3 linked regions of the Homo sapiens genome follow. The protein of the gene in region 1 interacts with the protein of each later gene in a biochemical or structural test. Each region holds a gene or a part of one and is shown in the gene's direction. Other genes may lie near its edges.

Region 1 (7,135 bases):
CATGTTTTCTTTTAGTATTTAAAAAAAAACATATGGCCAGGCGCGGTGGCTCACGCCTGTAATCCCAGCACTTTGGGAGGCAGAGGCGGGCGGATCACGAGGTCAGGAGATCGAGATCATCCTGGCTAACATGGTGAAACCCCGTCTCTACTAAAAATACAAAAACTAGCCTGGCATAGTGGTGTGTGCCTGTAATCCCAGCTACTCGGCAGGCTGAGGCATTAGAACTGCTTGAACCCGGGAGGCAGAGCTTGCAGTGAGCTGAAATCACACCACTGCACTCCAGCCTGGGCGACAGAGTGACAGTCTGTCTCAAAAAAAAAAAAATAATAATAATAAATAAATAAAAATTAAAACATAAAAAATATTCTAATATCTGTAGGACAACTAATCACCTTCTTTTTCAACATCTTGGCTATTCTTATCCATTTTCTCTTCCAGATAAATGTTGGAATCAACTTGTCAAGTAAAAAAAAAAGAATCCAGTTGGAATTTTGATTAAAGTTATATTTGTAGATTAATTTGAGACCAATTGAGTTGTTTTCTCATCTAGAAACATGGTATGTTTTTACATTTATTTAGGACTTATTTTTTCTTTAGCAACGTTTCCTGGTTTTCCTCATATTAATTTTATACATTTCGTGCTGAGTAAATTAATTAATCAACTCACTCAACAACTCTTTGTCCGAGGCTCAGAGTGTACAGCAATGAACAAGGCAAGTTCCCTGTTCTCATGGAGCCTATATTCTAATTGGGACAAATAAACAAAAAAGATCAGCTAGTGAGTAGTCCTCTGCAGATAATTAAAATAGGGTTATGTGATAGAGAGATATTGGGTGGCTACGTTAGATTGGGTGGTTAAGAAAGTCCCTTAATATTTCAACTGAGATCTGAGTAGCAAGAAGAATCCAGCTTTGTAAAGCTGCTGGGAGTGGGGATGGCATTTCAAGGAGAGGGAACCGCTAATGAAAAAAAAAAATCACTAAGTCTCCTAATAGTTTGATATTTTCTGTTCAAGGAACAGAAAAAAGGCCAGTGAAGCTAGCGGTGAGTGGTGAAGGGGAAAGTGTTATGAAAAGATGTTAGACAAACATTTAGGGGCCAAACAGATGATTCAGGCCTTCATAAGGAGTTTGCATATTATTTTATTTTTTTGAGACAAAGTCTCTGTTGCCCAGGCTTCAAGGTAGTGGTGTGATCTGAGCTCACTGCAGCCTCTGCCTCCCAGGTTCAGGTGATTCTCCTGCCTCAGCCTCTCCCCCTAGTAGCTGGAACTACAAGTGCACGCCACCATGACTGGCTAATTTTTGTATTTTTAGAAGTGACAGTGTTTTGCCATGTTGGCCAGGCTGGTCTCCACTCCTGGCCTTAAGTGATCTGCCCGCGTTGGCCTCCCAAAGTGCTGGAATAACAGGTGTGAGCCACTGTGCCTGGCCTACATTATATTAAATGTGATGGAAGCCATGTATTGAGTAAAAGAATGACTTGATCTGATTCATGGTTTTTGAAAGATCGCTATAGTACCTAGCGGAAAAAGGATAGCAGAGGGCCAAGAGTGAAAGAAAGATTTGTGAGGAGGCGAGTGTAGTGGTCCAGGTAAGAGGTAATAGTGGCCAGATATGGTGGCTCACACCTGTAGTCCCAGCTACTAGGGAGGCCGAGGCACGAGAATTCCTTGATCCCAGGAGGCAGAGGTTGCTAGTGAGCCGAGATCACGTCACTGCACTCCAGCCTGGGTGATGGAGGGAGACTCTGTCTCAAAAAAAAGAAAAAAAACAGAACATATTTATACACAAATGGAAATGACCCAGAAGAGGAGAAATTAGTCTGGGTGTGGTGACATGTGCCTTAATCTCAGCTACTTGGGGGCTAAAGTTGGAGGATCACTTGAGGTCAGGAGTTTGAGGCTGCAGTGAGCTATAATTGCGCCTGTGAATAATCACTGCACCCCAGCCTGGGCATCATAGACCCCGTCTTTAACATTTAGAAAGACAGAGAGAAAGGAGAGATTGATGAGGCAGGAGCAAGGAGGATAATTGTTGGAGCAGTAAAACTCTTGAAAAGGAGACAGTATGGAAGATATGGATAGTATCTTGAAAAATAAAGTGGATGAGAAGTGACACGAATAGTGGAAGAAACAAAGACGGTGGGCTATGAAAAATGATGGGGAGATACCAGGGATCAGTAGCTGACAGCATCTCAGAGTAGCAGCAGTCTGCATAAATTTTAAAAGCACTTGAGTTTCTGAGGGAGGAAGGAAGAGAAGTGGTTTGGAGGTAATATGAGGAATAGGCCACAGATAAGAATACCTATGAGAGGAAAAATAACCTCCTGTACTTGAAAAGTTGCAAGGGAGGTAGTTTTGCTAAGTGATAAACCGGGTTTCAGTTGGAATGGGAAGTTGATGGGAACATTTACAGAAGAGGCTAAGAATAAAGGGGAAGTGGTTGATGGCAGATGTTGAAATCAAAAGTGTGAAGTGAAATGGTTAGGATATTTGGTGAAGAGTGGGATATGGAATCAGAGTAATTGAAGCAGAGAGTAGCATGGAGATACTAGAGCAATAAACGGATGACGCAGATCCTACTGGTTGTGATTGAGGTGGAAAGGATTATAAAGCATGATGGAATTATCTTTTGGTAATCTCTTGGGTCAAACGTGGTGAACGGTAAGATGAATAATATAGAGCTACACAAACCGTTCTTGTGATATGGAGGCTGCTCCCTAATTACAATGCTAATATTTCATTTAGGATTTTTGTATTCATCGTTACAAAACAGGGTCTGTAGGTTTCCTTTTAGTGTTCATAATGCTTAGGTTTTACTAACAGGGTTATGATTACCTCTCCAAACAAGCTGGGATTTTTTTTTTCAAGCGTTTCCATGCCCTGGAACCATCTGGTCTAGTGCTTTTTGGGGTAATGAATATCTTCAATTGTATTTATTTTTACTTAGTTGATCTATTCAGATTTTCTACATTTTCTTGAGCTGATTTTGCTTATTTATATTTTTATTGATATAAAGATTTTTTCTATTTTTATTTCTTGTGCCAACTGTATGTACATTCCCCCCATTCCCGTTTCCATACTGTTTTTAGGCCATTTGAAAATCTCAAAGGTTTTACAGGAAAGTACAGATTGATGAAGAAATGGCCAAAAACGGGAAAAGTGAACTTTAAAGTGATTCAACTACAAAACGTATGCTACTGAGCAAATACTAGTGTATTCCTCGCTCTGCGGCTTAACTCCATGAAAATCCGTGCAAAGGTTTTAGCGTTGGGATTGTGACCGACTCGGTGAAGAGAGGGGACGATCACCAAACCGTTAGAGCACTGGGGCTCTTGGCAGTGTTTGTCAGTTATTTTCAAGTGATAACTTGAAGTGATACCGCAGGAATAAAATGCTGTATCCAGAGCTGGTCGGAACGAGCACTACCTTTAACAAAAGCTGAAAAGATCTGCCTAGGAATTCGTTAGAATACAGCCCTCTTACGTCTCTGACATACCTAGTTATGTGAACCGAGACTGTGCAGCTGACGGTGGAAATTTCCTAAGTGCTTTTTAAACAACAGAACTGGACTCCCTCCCTCCTCCATTCCCAGTCGAATACGTCCCACCCAGATCCAGCTCAAGGGTGCAGCACTTGTTCCGGCCAGCTCACAATCGCCCTTTGGAAGGGAGGTTTCCCGCCATTTCGCTTAGGAGGAGGGTGAACTCTTCTCCCTTCATTCTCCACTCGCTGGGGGCCCGAGCCCACACCACCTTCCTAGCAAAGCAAGCAGCGGGACGCCAAGGCCAGCAGGCCGCATTAAGAACGCTGGACTGAGCCAAAAGCCTACACAGACCAAGCCGCTCGGGAAAGGATCAACAACTGCCGACAACCCGGAGGGCGAAAACGCCCGCGGCGTAGGGGAAGCAAACTAGGAGATGCGCGGGCCCAGCGCCAGCGGCGGGAGGAGGCAGCGCGGCCGTCGCAGGCGGGAGCGAAGGCGGGGACGGAGGGCGGGCTCGCTCCACTCGACTCCGGATTGGTCGAGCTTAGAGAGCCGAGTGACGTCAGCGGGGGAGAACGCCTGATTTGTGTGGTGGGCGCGGGCGGTGGGGGGAAGCGCAGTGCGCAGGCGCAACTGCCTGGCTCTGCTCGCTCCGGCGCTCCGGCCCAGCTCTCGCGGACAAGTCCAGACATCGCGCGCCCCCCCTTCTCCGGGTCCGCCCCCTCCCCCTTCTCGGCGTCGTCGAAGATAAACAATAGTTGGCCGGCGAGCGCCTAGTGTGTCTCCCGCCGCCGGATTCGGCGGGCTGCGTGGGACCGGCGGGATCCCGGCCAGCCGGCCATGGCGGGGCTGTACTCGCTGGGAGTGAGCGTCTTCTCCGACCAGGGCGGGAGGAAGTACATGGAGGACGTTACTCAAATCGTTGTGGAGCCCGAACCGACGGCTGAAGAAAAGCCCTCGCCGCGGCGGTCGCTGTCTCAGCCGTTGCCTCCGCGGCCGTCGCCGGCCGCCCTTCCCGGCGGCGAAGTCTCGGGGAAAGGCCCAGCGGTGGCAGCCCGAGAGGCTCGCGACCCTCTCCCGGACGCCGGGGCCTCGCCGGCACCTAGCCGCTGCTGCCGCCGCCGTTCCTCCGTGGCCTTTTTCGCCGTGTGCGACGGGCACGGCGGGCGGGAGGCGGCACAGTTTGCCCGGGAGCACTTGTGGGGTTTCATCAAGAAGCAGAAGGGTTTCACCTCGTCCGAGCCGGCTAAGGTTTGCGCTGCCATCCGCAAAGGCTTTCTCGCTTGTCACCTTGCCATGTGGAAGAAACTGGGTAAGTTCCCTGGCTTGTTTGGCGCCCGCCCCTTTTTCAGGCAGTTCAGGGCTTTTATGGCACCAGCCCCGCGTGGGCCCCCGGCACCCAGAGCGCAACCAAAGTATACACTGATGGAAGTGACTAAAAGCTGTAATAGCGCTTTGCTGGGTGGAGGTCCGGGCAAACCAAGCGGCCTTGGGGAAGATAGGATTGCCGTCTCCCTGCAGCCTATTCTTGCTTTATTTCCATCCTCCAAGGATCAATGGGAAGCAGTCCACTCCCTTCCCTGCTTCACTTTGGTGGCAACCAGAGGAAACGTGTTTGAAACCTGGCGCCAGATTTTGGCCAAAAGATAAATCGATGTTGCACCTGGGCCAGGCGAAGGAAAAACTGTAGTGTTTCCTTAGAGAATCTGTCATAATTCTGCTCCTGAAAGTCTTATCCCTCTCGGTTGCCTCCTACCGGTGGTGTCAGTTCTCCAGATTGACCCGGGATTGCTGGGGTTGGTTGCTGGAGTAAAGCGTAAGCTAATTTAGAAGGGCTGAAACGTAACCATCCGGCAACTTAAAGTTTTGGAAGGAATTCCGTTGTAATGATGGTGAGATGTTTTTAGGATCATAAACCTGTACTGCTTATGAAAACTAAAAACGCGGAACGTGTTGTTACCTCTTAAAAACTGGCCCCGTGTTAAGGGTGTGCGTTAGATTCTGCTTGGGTTTTCTTTTTGGAAATTGCCTTAGCTGATTGCTTTCAGATAGTTCCCAACCGGTTGTTCCTAGTTTAAAAAGTACTTATAAATTGTAACTGCCCATCAAAATAAGAAAAGGCAAGGAATTACTGTATGCTAGAAGGAAATAAAGGTCTTAAATGTCTAAAAATTTCGGTGTAGTTGTAGTTTCATCTAAGTTTTTTTAAATGTTTGTAAAGCAGGCAGGATTTCTGTGCCCAACATTTACAGAATCATCTTACAGCATTATAATTGCTTATCTATTGCAGTGAATAAATGGCATGCATCTTTGTTAGAGCAAAGAAGACAATACTTCCAGTGGTGGGAAAAAACCTTGTTTATGGCAGCATAATAACGTTGCTTTATTTTCAGCAGAGGGATAGAGACATAGAGAAAAGAGTTAGATTTAGCAAATACAGAACATTTTTAGAAAGGTATTGTCATAGAGTTGTAGATTAGCCGGTTTCAAAGTCTGTTTTCCATTTGCTTGGCTTTCTGCCAAGAGTTAGTTGATTGACTCAAAAACCAGCCACTAGGCTTGTTGGAGGCGTTTCCCATCCATCCCAGGGGCCCCTCTTTATGGATTTATTTTGTTTTTGTGTAGGCACCGTAGAGCTGAAAGCACTGTAGTGTATTGTAGAAATATGTGATATCATTGACTGCAGGGCAACGAGAAGTCGACAGCAGCACAAGAGAGGAAGACTAGGCACAGAACTATTTAGAGTGCTGTTTATTTTGCAGTATACTTGGAGTAACATGAATTTGCCATATGTTTGAACTTTAAGGATAAAAAATCTTTAAGGTATAAACTCCGTTACATTAGTATTAAATTTTTTTTTTTTTAAGAGACGGGCAGGGGCGGGGGACGGGTGTGGGCCGCCTTACTTTGTTGCCCAGGCTGGGCAACAAGCGATCCTGGGCTCAAGCGATCCTTCCTCCTCGGCCTCCGAAAGTGCTGGAATTACAGGCGTGAGCTACCCTGCCGGACCTTCAGGAACATTTTTTAATAAAGCAGGGGCCATGCTGTTAAATGTAAATATGTATGGTTTAGTTTTACATACACAGACTTTTCGAATTAAGCTGTCACTCTTATGATGCATAAAGTTTAGAGCCTTATACTCCAGAAAAATGTTAAAGTTTGTTTTGTACCACAGCTAGACCTCAGACTTCGTCCTCAAAGCTTGAAAAAAAAAAAAAAAAAAAAAGTATGCTAATTATTTTGGGAGTCTTGACAAAGGAAACGAAGGTTTAAATTTTTTTTTCAATCACAAATTCTTGGATGGCTCCACATTTTCTGTAAAGTAAACTGTAGTTTGCAATCTGCAGGCCAACCCCTTTCCTGTACATATTCAGCCTCTCCAGTAAATTATATTTGTTACACGAATTTCCATTACATTAGTCTCTACTCACCTTTTTTCAGGACACATGGAAATACTCCATTTCCATTTTCTTGGATTCTGCCTCTCTCACCCTGCCCCCCCAACAAGGAAAACTCAAACAAAAATATATCCATCATGTAGATTCCCAGTCAGTATGTTTTCTTCTGTGAAGACTACTTTCTTTTGGAATTGAGCACCCTTTTTTCTACTTTTGTAGTGCTCATTGGATTGTAGTAATAGTTCT
Region 2 (6,491 bases), on another chromosome or scaffold:
TCGGCTAACATGAGCGACTGCTGCTGCTCTCCAATAACAACTCAGTTCCTACCACTTCTTTTTTTTTTTTTTTTTTTTTTTTTTGAGACAGGGTCTCCCTCTGTCATGCAGGCTGGAGAGCAGTGGCGCGATCTTAGCTCACTGCATCCTCTGACTCAAACGATCCTCCTGCCCCAGCCTCCCAAGTAGCTGGGGCTACAGGCATGTGCCACCACACCTGGCAAATTTTTGTATTTTTTGTAGAGACAGGGTTTCACCATGTTGCCTAGGCTGGTCTTGAACTCCTGGGCTCAAGTGATCTGCCAGGCCTCCCAAAGTGCTGGGATTACACTCTTGAGCCACTGTGCCCAGCCAGTTCCTACCATTTCTTAAATAAACATTAAAATGCTTGATCATAGAATTACTCTTGCTTTCTTTTCTTTTCTTTTTTTTTTTTTTTTTTTGAGACGGAGTTTTGTTCTTGCCCAGGCTGGAGTACAATGGTGCGATCTCGGCTCACCGCAACCTCCGCCTCCCAGGTTCAAGCGATTCTCCTGCCTCAGCCTCCCTAGTAGCTGGGATTACAGGCATGTGCCACCACGCCCAGCTAATTTTGTATTTCTAGTAGAGACGGGGTTTCTCCATGTTGGTCAGGCTGGTCTCGAACTCCTGACCTCAGGTGATCTGCCTGCTTCAGCCTCCCAAAGTGCTGGGATTACAGGCGTGAGTCACCGCACCCGGCCATGAATTACTCCTGCTTTCTAACAGCACCCAGTCCAGAGCAAAACTACTTTCTTTCACCCTCTCCCAAAATACCCAAAACAAACGCTACTACAAGCCCCTCCTAACACCCTCTTACTGAGACATTCCGTGGTTCCCAATGGTGTGTGGTTTCTGAAGTCTCCCTTTTTACAACAAGTCATTAAACCTAGCTTTGAACTATAGATGTGTTTCTGATGGTCTTTGGCTGATGAACATCAACAAGTGTTTATTAAAGCTAAGTACTTTTTAAACACTATCTTATTTAAATCTTGTAATGGTTTTATGTGGCAGATGTTATAATCAGCCCTGTTTTACAGATGAGAAAACAGGCTTAGAGAAGTTAAATGTGTCATGATCAAGATCAAGGTCACAAAGCTAAGAAGTAAAGTTGGTATCCAAACTTACATCAGAATGGGCTAAACCAAATTTAAGATAGTAACTAGTTTGGAAGGCTGCACGAAAGAGGTGGAATATTGGGAATTGCCTTGGGTGACATAAAAGGAGTATTGAGTTCTTAAAAGTGACTTGGGTGAGGTGGATGATAACAGCTGTAAACAGAACTTAGACAAAAATAGGACCAAGGTTTGCAGAGGAAGTGGGTATTAACTTTTCCTTCTTTCTTCCTTGCTTCCAAAGGTGATTGTCGGGATGATCATGTCTTTTCCCTCTACTTCATGATACCCTTTTTTTTCACCACTTTGGGATTGCTCTACCACAACTGGTAAGTAGGCCTGTGGATAAGGGGACAACTACCTGAACACATGGCAAAGATGGCCCTTATCATAACCCACCTTGTGGTGGTGAAGCTAAACCTGCGCATACCTCTATGGAGTTTTCTGCGTCTTCAGTTGGTCGTATTCTGAAATTTCTCTCTACCCAGTAGTAGTTAGGGATGAGTGCGTGGAGGCCCCAGGAATAGATGAATTCAGGGCCTTGGATCCTGCAGAGTTGCTGCACAACTGGAGTCTCCTCTGAGTCAGAACTAGGGTCAGGGCTAGTCCAGTGCCCATAGGGTGTGATGTGAGAGAAGGGATTGGTAATGCCTCTTGCCACTGGCTCGGATCCTCTTCCCCCACACAGGTACCCATCACGGGTGTTTGTGGGAGATACCTTCTGTTACTTTGCTGGCATGACCTTTGCCGTGGTGGGCATCTTGGGACACTTCAGCAAGACCATGCTACTATTCTTCATGCCCCAGGTGTTCAACTTCCTCTACTCACTGCCTCAGCTCCTGCATATCATCCCCTGCCCTCGCCACCGCATACCCAGGTAGCCGCTTTTTGGCTTGAAATGGACATCATAGCCTTTTCACTTGGGATATCTAATGCCAGCCTATACATTTGCTGTGCAAAGGGAGTGGGCCCAAAGAAGGGCTATTTCCATGTGAGTAGCCCTTTATAACTTACAAAGCACATTTATTTGCATAATCTGCTACAGTGGTTCTGATAACAGTAAGCAGCAGAGCCAGAAATAGATCTCAGGTTGACTCCACATTCAATGCTCTTCCTATTAGCCACAGGGAGGAGGGTTCAAATAGTGGCCCAGTCACATGAAGCTATCTTCCCCCCGCAGACTCAATATCAAGACAGGCAAACTGGAGATGAGCTATTCCAAGTTCAAGACCAAGAGCCTCTCTTTCTTGGGCACCTTTATTTTAAAGGTAACAGGGTAACAAGGAGGTAAGGCCCTAGGCTGCCATCCTGACCTTGAGGAATGGGGAACCTAGTCCTACATCAGATCCAAGGGGAACTTGAAAGCATTAAATAGATCCACATTCCTAAAGCATAGGTATTAGCTGAGGTTCTCTTCACCTCTGGTCCCTCCAGGTGGCAGAGAGCCTCCAGCTGGTGACAGTACACCAGAGTGAGACTGAAGATGGTGAATTCACTGAATGTAACAACATGACCCTCATCAACTTGCTACTTAAAGTCCTTGGGCCCATACATGAGAGAAACCTCACATTGCTCCTGCTGCTGCTGCAGGTGAGGATGGGAATCGAGTTTATACCTCCGTGTCTCCCTTTCTGCGTGATTCTTACTCCAGTCCATTTCTCCTTGCAGATCCTGGGCAGTGCCATCACCTTCTCCATTCGATATCAGCTCGTTCGACTCTTCTATGATGTCTGAGTCCCTTGATCATTGTCCTTTACCTCACAGTCTCTAGGATTCCTGACTCAGGCTGACCTCTCTCTCTGGTCCCAGACTGCCTCCTTGCCCAGGCCTCTCTCACTCTTCATACTCCTCCAGATTTTGTTCTCAGCATTTTCCTTTCTCTGTGATCATTGGCATCCTGGGCGTTTCTTGCCCTCTGCTGACTACTGATTGGATTTTACCTATGGCTTTCTGCAACTTGCTACTCTCTCCCTCTCCATCCCATCTTTGCAGCCTCATAGGGTGGGATACAGCAGCTTTTTTTGCAGTTATCCACACTCACATTTCAGAGTCCTGACTCTCAAGGAACCACTGGTTTTTGGGATAGAACTTGGGCCAGGGCTAGGAACACAGGCTCCACGGTGACATGTCATTTGATTGTAAATTAAGTGTTCTGATTAGTAAGAACTAAGCAGGGGGCCACATGCTCTCAATGGAGACAATAAAGTGTTGTCTTTTTCTTATTGTTTATGTAGGTATATTTCCTATATGGGCATTTTTGGGTAGATTGGGAGGGGTGGTGGGGGTACTTCCTCCAACAGGATGCCTATCTCTCTGCCCCATCAGACCCCGTCTAACAAGAAGTGAACAGAACTGAGACCAAACAGAACATATTGAATAAATATTTAAATCCTGATACTAGAGGTGGCATGGAGGGCCACAAAATTGAAGTTATCCTGTTTCCTGGCATGGGAACAAACTTTCAAAGAGTCACCGGGTGCAGTGGCTCATGCCTGTAATCCCAGCACTTTAGGAGGCTGAGGCAGGAGGATTGCCTGAGCCCAGGAATTCAAGACAGCCTGGGCAACAAAACGAGACTCCGTCTCTACAAAAATAAAATAATTAGCCAAGTGTGGTGGAGCACTTGTAGTACCAGCTACGAGGGAGGTTTAGCAGGGAGGATTCCTTGAACCCAGGAGTTCGAGGCTGCAGTGAGCTGAGATCACACTACTGCACTCCAGCCTGGGTGACAGAGCCAGTGACACCCGGTCTATTAAAAAAAGAAAGAAAGAAAAAAAAGAAAACTTTTAAGGGGTCTAATTTCTTCACTTTTCCATTCTCCCTTTGTCAGGTAGGAGAAGGGAGTAGGGAGTGACTGGACCTGGAAAGGAGGGCTGCAGTAGCTATAATATTGACCCCTTTCCTTTAAAAATCCTACGCCGGCACAGATTTCCCAGACGCTCTCTAGGTGGCCTCAGACTCCACCCCTTTGGTCTTCCGCTTCTGGTTTCCGATTGTAGTGTTTAAATCTCGCGCGCTTTACAAGGATTGGCTACATCAGCGGATAGTTGGCAGTCTGCGTGCTACCCCTCCTCCTCGCCTTTTCTCCCCGGGCAAAAGGTTTTCAAATTCGACCAATCAGCGGGCGCGCTCCCTCAGCCGAGCCGCGACACCCAAGGGTTAACCGCAACCAACCGGAGGCGGGTATTGGAGAAAAGAGCCAATCAGGAGGGCGCAGAGGTGTGTCCTGGGGGCTTATAAAGGCGGCCTCGCGGCGCGCGCGCGACAGCAGTTACACTGCGGCGGGCGTCTGTTCTAGTGTTTGAGCCGTCGTGCTTCACCGGTCTACCTCGCTAGCATGTCGGGCCGCGGCAAGACTGGCGGCAAGGCCCGCGCCAAGGCCAAGTCGCGCTCGTCGCGCGCCGGCCTCCAGTTCCCAGTGGGCCGTGTACACCGGCTGCTGCGGAAGGGCCACTACGCCGAGCGCGTTGGCGCCGGCGCGCCAGTGTACCTGGCGGCAGTGCTGGAGTACCTCACCGCTGAGATCCTGGAGCTGGCGGGCAATGCGGCCCGCGACAACAAGAAGACGCGAATCATCCCCCGCCACCTGCAGCTGGCCATCCGCAACGACGAGGAGCTCAACAAGCTGCTGGGCGGCGTGACGATCGCCCAGGGAGGCGTCCTGCCCAACATCCAGGCCGTGCTGCTGCCCAAGAAGACCAGCGCCACCGTGGGGCCGAAGGCGCCCTCGGGCGGCAAGAAGGCCACCCAGGCCTCCCAGGAGTACTAAGAGGGCCCGCGCCGCGGCCGGCCGCCAGGCCTCCCCATGCCACCACAAAGGCCCTTTTAAGGGCCACCACCGCCCTCATGGAAAGAGCTGAGCCGCTTCAGACTGCGGGGCAAGCGGGCCGCGGCTCCCTTCCCCTCCCCTCCCCTCGCCCGCCTTCGCCGCCCGGCCTCGAGTCCCCGCCCGCCCCCGCTCCCGTCCCGCACCGCCTGCCGCGTCGGCCTCGGGCCCTGCCCTGTCCGCCGTCCGCCCTCCGGTAGGGTTCGGGCCTTCCGGATGCGGCTTGGGCGCTCTTCGGGGACCTCCGTGGCGCGGAAGACCCGAGCCTGCCGGGGGGAGGCCGGCGGCGCCGCACCTGCCCGCCTCGGCGTTCGTGACTCAGCCGCCCCATCCCGAGTCGCTAAGGGGCTGCGGGGAGGCCGCAGCACCTTCTGGAAGACTTGGCCTTCCGCTCTGACGCAGGGCCGAGGTGGGCAGTCCAGGCCGAGAGGCCGGCGGCCCTGAAGGTGAGTGAGGCCCTCGGCAGCTGCAGCCGGGGTGTCTGGTACCCCCCCGGCGTGGTGCTTAGCCCAGGACTTTCAGACGCGGCCGCTGGCCGGGAGGCTTTGGTGGGAGAGACGCGATCGCCGATTTCGGTCTGGCGCCCCTTCTGCGGCCGGGACCCAGGCCTTTCACATCAGCTCTCCCTCCATCTTCATTCATAGGTCTGCGCTGGGGCCGGGACGAAGCACTTGGTAACAGGCACATCTTCCTCCCGAGTGACTGCCTCCTAGGAGGACATTTAGGGGAGGGCAGAGGCCTGCAGTTTGGCTTCACGGCTGGCTATGTGGACAGCAAGAGTCGTTTTCGCGGAAGCCGACTGGCAGCCAGGCCTGTCGGGCCCCCCGACGCCGCCCCATTTCCCTTCCAGCAAACTCAACTCGGCAATCCAAGCACCTAGATACCAGCACAAGTCGGTTAATCCCTGTCTGGACTGAGCCTCCGTTGGCTTCTGAACTGGAATTCTGCAGCTAACCCTTCCACGACTAGAACCTTAGGCATTGGGGAGTTTTAGATGGACTAATTTTATTAAAGGATTGTTTTTTTTTTAAATGGAGCGTTTGTTTTCATTTTGCAAGAGAGTTGTAGAATTAGTGACTTTCTATACTTTCCTGATAATAGGGGTGGGAGGGGCCATGCAATATAAACAGGCTCTACTGTTAACTGAAGGGGCAAACCATAGGAATTTAAGATTGTGGCTCTGTTTCTTGGTGTTCCTGGGAGACAATTTATTCTGTGTGAAATGAAAACTATTGAGGCAGAAGCAGAAAGGACGTACCAGGAGAACTCTGGGCAAAAGTCCCAGCCTCTGAGGTAAGGATGAAAGGGCTTTGTGTTTGTTCCTATCTTCCCGCCAACTCCACACGCGCACACACAACACCTTCAGAACTGGTTTATTAGTAGGATTGGTTACATTCAAAGGCTGTTGCTTGGACTTCTCTAAAGAGATGAAGCCCCCACATACTGAGGAGGCAAGGCAGTCATCAAGGCCCCAAGGTGAGGCAAATCCCTGGAAGGCTTGAACCCTGCAGTTCAGTCTCCCGGGGTAATCA
Region 3 (7,000 bases), on another chromosome or scaffold:
TTTTAGCTTGATGAAATCCCAGTTGTCTGTTTTTGCTTTAGTTGCCTGTGCTTTTGAGGTCTTACGTAAAAACCCTGTGCCCAAAAAACCTGTGCCCAAGATGAGTGTCCTGGAGCACTTCCCCAGTGTTTTCTTCTAGTAGTTTTATAGGTTTTGGGACTGGATTTCTGTCTACAGTCCTGGAGTTTTGCTGCCCTCACTTTGGTTTTTCACTCACTTCTCTGCATGGCTTTCCAATAGCAATAGCTCCCAGATAGCAAGCATGGGTGGGTGGGGGGAGTATTACATGCGTCACTTCACTTAATCCTCATGGTCTGTCTACTTATTTTCAGATGAGAAAACAGGTTTAGAGAAGTTGTGATCTACCTAAAGTCATGCACAGTTTCACTCAAGTGTCTGACTCCAGATCCGCTTGCCTCTAATCTCTCATAGTAACTTGTTGACACATTTTCTCCAGTTGTCCTGTCTTGCTTAAAAAGCTGTGGGGAAGACTCAGCCTGGCTCAGGTAGTATTAGACCAGCAGTCCCTGGTGTGGCATACTCAGTTTTGGCATTGCCTTCCTGGTATGTTTTAAAGAAAACTCATCAGAACCTTTGTATCTTTTTTATTTTCCTTGAGACAGGGTCTCGCTCTGTCACCCAGGCTGGAGTGCAGGCTCGATCACGGCTCACTGCAGCCTCAACCTCCTGGACTCAAGTGATCCTCCCACCTCAGCTTCCCAAGTAGCTGGGACTACAGGTGCACACCACCATGCCCTGCTAATTTTTTGTATTTTCTGTAGATACTGGATTTCACCATGGTGCCCAGGCTGGTCTTGAATTCCTGGGCTCAAGCAATCTACCTGCGTTGGCCTCCCAAAGTGCTGGGATTACAGACATGAACCACCACACCTGGCAGAACCTTTGTATCTTGAAAGCTGTGTAAATACAATCAGTGTGGGTATCTTAGTCCCTCCTTATCAGCGGTAGTAGTTTCACTTACCAATGGTCAGCTGCGATCTGAAACTATTAAGTGGAAAATTCATAAGAAATAGTCAATTCATGGCTGGGCATGGTGGCTCAGGCCTGTAATCCTAGCAGTTTGGGAGGCTGAGGTGGACCTGAGGATCACCTGAGGTCTGCAGTTTGAGACCAGGCTGGCCAATACGGTGAAAACCCTGTCTCTACTAAAAAAAATATACAAATTAGCCGGGCATGGTGGTGTGCGCCTGTAATCCCAACTACTTGGAAGGCTGAAGCAGGAGAATTGCTTGAACCCAGGAGGTGGAGGTTGCAATGAGCCAAAATTGTGCCACTGCACTCCAGCCTGGGTGACTGAGACTCCGTTTCAAAAAAAAAAAAAAAAAGAAATAATCAGTTCATAAGTCTTAAATTACATGGTTTTGCAGTGCTTGTGTTCATGTCACCCTTATATTTAATAATGGCCCCAAAGCAAAAGATGCTGGCAATTTGGATATTGTAAAGAGAAGCTGTAAAGTGTTTCCTTTTACTGAAAAGGTGAAAGATCTCAATTTAATATGGAAATAAAAAAATTTGTATGCTGAGGCTGCTAACGTCTATGGTAAGAACTAATCTTCTATTTGTGAAATTGTGAAGAAGGAAAAAGAAAGTTGTGCATAATTTATATAGGGTTCTGTACTATGCGAGGTTTCAGGCATCCACTGGGGGGTCTTGGATCTTATCCCCCTCTGATGGTGGGGACTACTATAGTGTTGTTTCCTATGTTCTCCTAGAGTAGTAGCCTGAGTTTGGGGAGGAAGAGAATGCCCTCCTCTCCCTCCCTTTTTTTTGTTAATCCGATTAGGTCAGCAGTGGATGTTACTTTGATTTTACTGGTGGTTCTGTTATCAGAGTCTTGGTTTGTTTTCTGTTCTTTGGAGATAGGGTCTCACTCTGCCACCCAGGCTGGTATGTAAGTGGTATGATCATAGCTCACTGCAGCCTTCAACTCCTGGGCTCAAGTGATCCTCCCACCTCACCTTCCTGAGTAGCTGAGCCCACAGCTGCATGCCATCATGTCTAATTTTCTTATTTTTTGTACGGGGGGCGGGGGGGGTCCCACTATGTTGGCCAGGCTGGTATTGAACTCGTGGCCTCAAGTGGTCCTCTTGCCTTGGCCTCCCAAAGTGCTGGGATTACAGGTATGAGCCACTGCACCCAGCCTGTTATGACAGTCTAACTGTCTATCAGGTTAATTCTAAGACAAGGGTGGAAGCCTCTGTTACGGTCTCCAGTTTATAAAAGAATGGTTCCTGCAAGATTACATCAAGGCCGGAAGGCCATTTAGGATGCTGAAAAGATAAGCCCTATGGTTATTTAGCATCACAAAGGGATAGGTGGAGTTGTTAAGAGCTGTCTTCCTTTGTGTTCTGCCTCATTAAGTCACTGGGTCCTTAGGTGTCAGGGAATATAGATTGAACGAACAGGTGTGTTTCACTTTAGGAGCAAGCCTGGGGGAAAAGGGGTACCAGTGACATTTTATGTAAATGGACCCTTTGGAGTAATGCAGCAGGTTATTGTACAATTTCTTTTTGACTTTTATATCAAGCCACCTGATTTTTTGTCTTCTTTTGCTTTCCAAAGTACACAGATGCTCCTCAACTTTCAATGGCATTATGTCTAAATAAAACCATTCTAAGTTGAAAATATTGTTAAATTGAAATTACATTTAATACACCTAAGATACCAAACGTCATAGTTTAGCCTAGCCTCCTTTAAACATGCTCAGAACACTTATGTCAGGGTACAGTTGGGCAAAATTATCTAACACAAAGATTATTGTTATTATTTTTTGTAGAGGTGGGGTCTCAAACACCTGCCCTCAAGCAATCCTCCTACCTCCACCACCCGAAATATTGGGTTTACAGTTGTGAGTCACTGCACCTGGCCTATTTTATTTTATTTTAAAATTTTATTTATTTAATTAATTAATTTTTTTGAGACAGGGTTTCACTCCTGTCACCCAGGCTGGAGTGCAGTGGCGCGATCTCAGCTCAGTGCAACCTCTGCCTCCTGGGCTCGAGCAATTCTCCTGCTTCAGCCTCCTGAGTAGCTGGAACTACAGGCGCCTGCCACCACACCCGGCTAATTTTTGTATTTTTAGTGGACACGGGGTTTGACTGTGTTGGCCAGGCTGGTCTTGAACTCCTGATCTCAGGTGATCTACCTGCCTTGACCCCCCAGAGTTCTGGGATTATAGGTGTGAGCCACTGCACCTGGCCACCTGGCCTATTTTATAATAAGGTGTTAAATATCTCATGTAATTACTTGAATACTGTACTGAAGGTGAAAACCAGAATGGTTATGTGAGGACTTGGAGAAGTAAGTGTCTACTGATTGCTTTCACAGAAAGTCTAAACATTGTTAAATAGAAGCATTGTTAAATTGAGGACTGTATATATGAGTTTTTTTTTTTGAAACGGAGTCTTGCACTGTTGCCCAGGCTGGAGTGCAGTGGTGCAATCTTGGTTCACTGCAACCTCTGCCTCCCGGGCTCAAGCGATTCTCCTGCCTCAGCCTCCCGAGTAGCTGAGAATACAGGTGCCCGCCACCACGCCTGGCTAATTTTTTGTATTTTTAGTAGAGACGGAGTTTCACTATGTTGGCCAGGCTGGTCTTGAACTCCTGACCTCATGATCTGCCCGTCTTGTCCTCCCAAAGTGCGGGACTACAGGAGTGAACCCCCGCGCCTGGCCCCCTGTATATATGAAATTTAAATGTAGTGTTGATTGTATCAGTACATTTTTGGTTTCAGTCTTAATTTAAAAGAATTGGACAAATGTAAGCTTTTATGAGCCCCCCAGCTCAATTTTATTGCTTTTTACTTATTTGTAACCTTCAGATAATTTGTTTTTCCCTGTAGTTTATGGCTGTCAGATAAAAAACTGATCTGGTGACAATGATCTGGTGAAAAGCTCAGCCCAGAAGAACTATAGGTCTGGGCTGTTAGGACTTTTAATTTTTGGAGAGCATGTTTGCCCTGTTTTTTTTTTTTTCTTTTCTTTTGCTGTTGTAATAGGCCCATCATTTACTTTTTAATTTTAAGTCTTGTGCCTTGAAACTCACCTTTGTTGTTGGACACTTTCTTTTTGAGGTCGTGATGTCTCGGGAGTCGGATGTTGAGGCTCAGCAGTCTCATGGCAGCAGTGCCTGTTCACAGCCCCATGGCAGCGTTACCCAGTCCCAAGGCTCCTCCTCACAGTCCCAGGGCATATCCAGCTCCTCTACCAGCACGATGCCAAACTCCAGCCAGTCCTCTCACTCCAGCTCTGGGACACTGAGCTCCTTAGAGACAGTGTCCACTCAGGAACTCTATTCTATTCCTGAGGACCAAGAACCTGAGGACCAAGAACCTGAGGAGCCTACCCCTGCCCCCTGGGCTCGATTATGGGCCCTTCAGGATGGATTTGCCAATCTTGGTAAGACCCTTTGTTGTATAGTATCACGTTTTGTTCAGAAAAACACTTACAGAAAGTTGTATTACCAGGTGGAAGGTTCTGATTGGAGTTGTCCAGGTTTTTGGCACGTTGAACAAATAATTGAACATCATGCATGAACAAGCAATGAAAGCATAGATTTATTGAAGTGGAAGGCAATAGAAGCTAAAGTACATGTCACAGGATGGGAGCAGGCCTGAGCAAGTGGCTGCAGAGCCCTTGTAGCAAAGTCTTCTGGGGTTCAAGTACCCTCTAGAGGTCTCCCACTGTTTACATCCTATGTAAATGAAGTGCTGGCTCACAGCCCATTAGAGGCCAAAGTGAATTGGAGCTCGGCCATTCCAAGACTGGTGTGGATTGACGCCTTATGCAAATGAAGGTCCTAGAATGGACGGATCATAGGCCAGAGTGCAAATTCTTCCTTTTTTGTTTAGTTTCAGGAATTTTTTTTTTTTTTTTTTTGGCAACGGAGTCTTGCTCTGTCGCACAGACAAGTGCAGTGACGCCATCTCGGCTCGGCTCACTGCAGCCTCTGACTCCTGGGTTCAAGCGATTCTCCTGTCTCAGATTCCTGAGTAGCTGGGATTACAGACACACACCACCACACCTGGCTAATTTTTGTATTTTTAGTAGAGACGGGGTTTCACCACGTTGGCCAGGCTGGTCTCGAACTCCTGGCCTCAAGTGATCCTCCTGCTTCGGCCTCCCAAAGTGTTGGGATTACAGGCATGAGCAACCGTGCCCATCTATTCCAGGAAGTTTGCGTGAATTGGCCATAGATTCCCTGCCTTCAGACCCTATTTTCCTGCCTTAGTTAGTTGCAGCAGAATGCTTGAGCCACTCTTAGAATAATTCTGGAGTTTGAATGTGATAAAAGGTAAAACCAAAGAGGCAGTATTGGGTGTTGCCCTGGCTGTTACCTGCTGTGGATTCTGTTCATTTACTCTTTCAACAAATAATAATTGGACATTTACAATGTGCTGTCCATCCAAAGATCTGAAGGTAGCTTTGGACCCTCTTCCTAGAAAAATGCAGATTCACTCAAACTTGCAAACATTATCCCCTAATCACAAAAGCTTCACTAGTTAACCTCTGCTGTGGTTTGCCACAGCTTCAGAGAATCAGAGCTGTTCAGAATAGAGATGGCCATTTGTTGACTACTTGTTACTTGTTTTTGTCTCAAAATAGCCAACCTTGTGATTTAAACATGTTGACCCTTTCTGACACCTCCTGGTTCCAATAGTAAGTTTTGCTCTGCATATGTTTAAAATACACATGTGTGTATTTTAACATTGCCAGGCATGGTGGCTCACGCCTGTAATCCCAGCACTTTGGGAGGCCAAAGCGGGAGGATCACTTGAGGCCAGGAGTTCGAAACCAGCTTGGGCAACATGGCAAAACCCTGTCTCTCCTGAAAATACAAAAATTAGCCAGGTGTGGTGGCGCATGTCTGCAATCCCAGCTACTCAGGAGGATGAGACATGAGAATTGCTTGAACCTGGGAGGCAGAGGTTGCAATGAGCCAGGATTGCACCACTGCACTCCGGCCAAAAAAAATAGTGTTTTTTTTCCTTTCGCTTACATTGCAATGACCTCTTTAATAAACAAATTTGAACTTGGCATTAACAGGATAGAATATGTTAATATAAAGAAATGAAGGACTGATGTATCATTTTGTGTTTTGTCACTCACCATCCTTGTTTTATTTCATGTCTAACTTTGATATCTTGAAAAAACTATAAAAAATGGAGGAATATACCTGCATTCCACATATACAACTTTAAATTTATAAGTAGACACTCGAAGCTATTTTTAACTGATTTAAAATATATTTTTCAGACCGGGCATTGTGGCTCATGCCTGTAATCCCAGCACGTTGAGAGACCAAGGCAGGTGGATCACCTGAGGTCAGGAGTTTGAGGCCATCCTGGCCAACATGGGGAAACCCTGTCTCTGTTAAAAATACAAAAATTAGGCCAGGCGTGGTGGCTCATGCCTGTAATCCCAGCACTTTGGGAGGCCGAGATGGGCGGATCACCTGAGATCGGGAGTTCGAGACCAGCCTGACCAACATGGAGAAACCCTGTCTCTACTAAAAATACAAAATTAGCTGGGCATGGTGGCGGGCTCCTGTAATCCCAGCTACTCAGGAGGCTGAGGCAGGAGAATCGGTTGAACCTGGGAGGCAGAGGTTGCAGTGAACCGAGATCTCGCCATTGCACTCCAGCCTGGGCAACAAGAGCGAAACTCCATCTCAAAAAAAAAAGAAAAAAAAATTTGCGGGGCGTTGTGGCAGGCATCTGTAATCCCACCCACACAGGAGGCTGAGACAGGAGAATTGCTGGAACTTGGGAGGTGGAGGTTGCAGTGAGCTGAGATTGCGCTACTGCAGTCCCGCCTGGGTGACAGAGCGAGATTCCGTCTCCAAAAAATAAACAAATAAATAAAATACAATATATTTTTTCAGATAGGCCTATAGGTTTAGATGAGTGAGAAATAGAAATGGTGAGAAAGGGCTAAATGGGATACATCACCTTTAAAAGTAAGAAAACAAAGAGGCTGGG

Evidence for each region. The genes of interacting proteins can lie anywhere in the genome.
Region 2: of the proteins of PPM1D (region 1) and H2AX, one has a biochemical effect on the other in vitro, tested with the Homo sapiens proteins (3 studies listed by BioGRID and IntAct).
Region 3: of the proteins of PPM1D (region 1) and CHEK2, one has a biochemical effect on the other in vitro, tested with the Homo sapiens proteins (2 studies listed by BioGRID, with this or other methods).

Annotation. Positions count from the first base shown.
Region 1 is NC_000017.11:60,596,084-60,603,218, forward strand, and holds the start of PPM1D (protein phosphatase 1D), read left to right. Parts: upstream 1-4,109; 5' UTR 4,110-4,331; coding exon 4,332-4,803; intron 4,804-7,135. UniProt on the Homo sapiens protein: Involved in the negative regulation of p53 expression. Required for the relief of p53-dependent checkpoint mediated cell cycle arrest.
Region 2 is NC_000011.10:119,093,374-119,099,864, reverse strand, and holds H2AX (histone H2AX), read left to right. Parts: upstream 1-4,399; 5' UTR 4,400-4,470; coding exon 4,471-4,902; 3' UTR 4,903-5,991; downstream 5,992-6,491. Other genes in the region: DPAGT1 (UDP-N-acetylglucosamine--dolichyl-phosphate N-acetylglucosaminephosphotransferase), read left to right, coding at 1,378-1,462, 1,822-2,010, 2,314-2,401, 2,568-2,867. UniProt on the Homo sapiens protein: Variant histone H2A which replaces conventional H2A in a subset of nucleosomes. Nucleosomes wrap and compact DNA into chromatin, limiting DNA accessibility to the cellular machineries which require DNA as a template.
Region 3 is NC_000022.11:28,731,821-28,738,820, reverse strand, and holds part of CHEK2 (serine/threonine-protein kinase Chk2), read left to right. Parts: exon of another isoform or gene 1-1,537; coding exon of another isoform or gene 1,538-1,561; intron 1,562-4,093; coding exon of another isoform or gene 4,094-4,099; coding exon 4,100-4,418; intron 4,419-7,000. UniProt on the Homo sapiens protein: Serine/threonine-protein kinase which is required for checkpoint-mediated cell cycle arrest, activation of DNA repair and apoptosis in response to the presence of DNA double-strand breaks.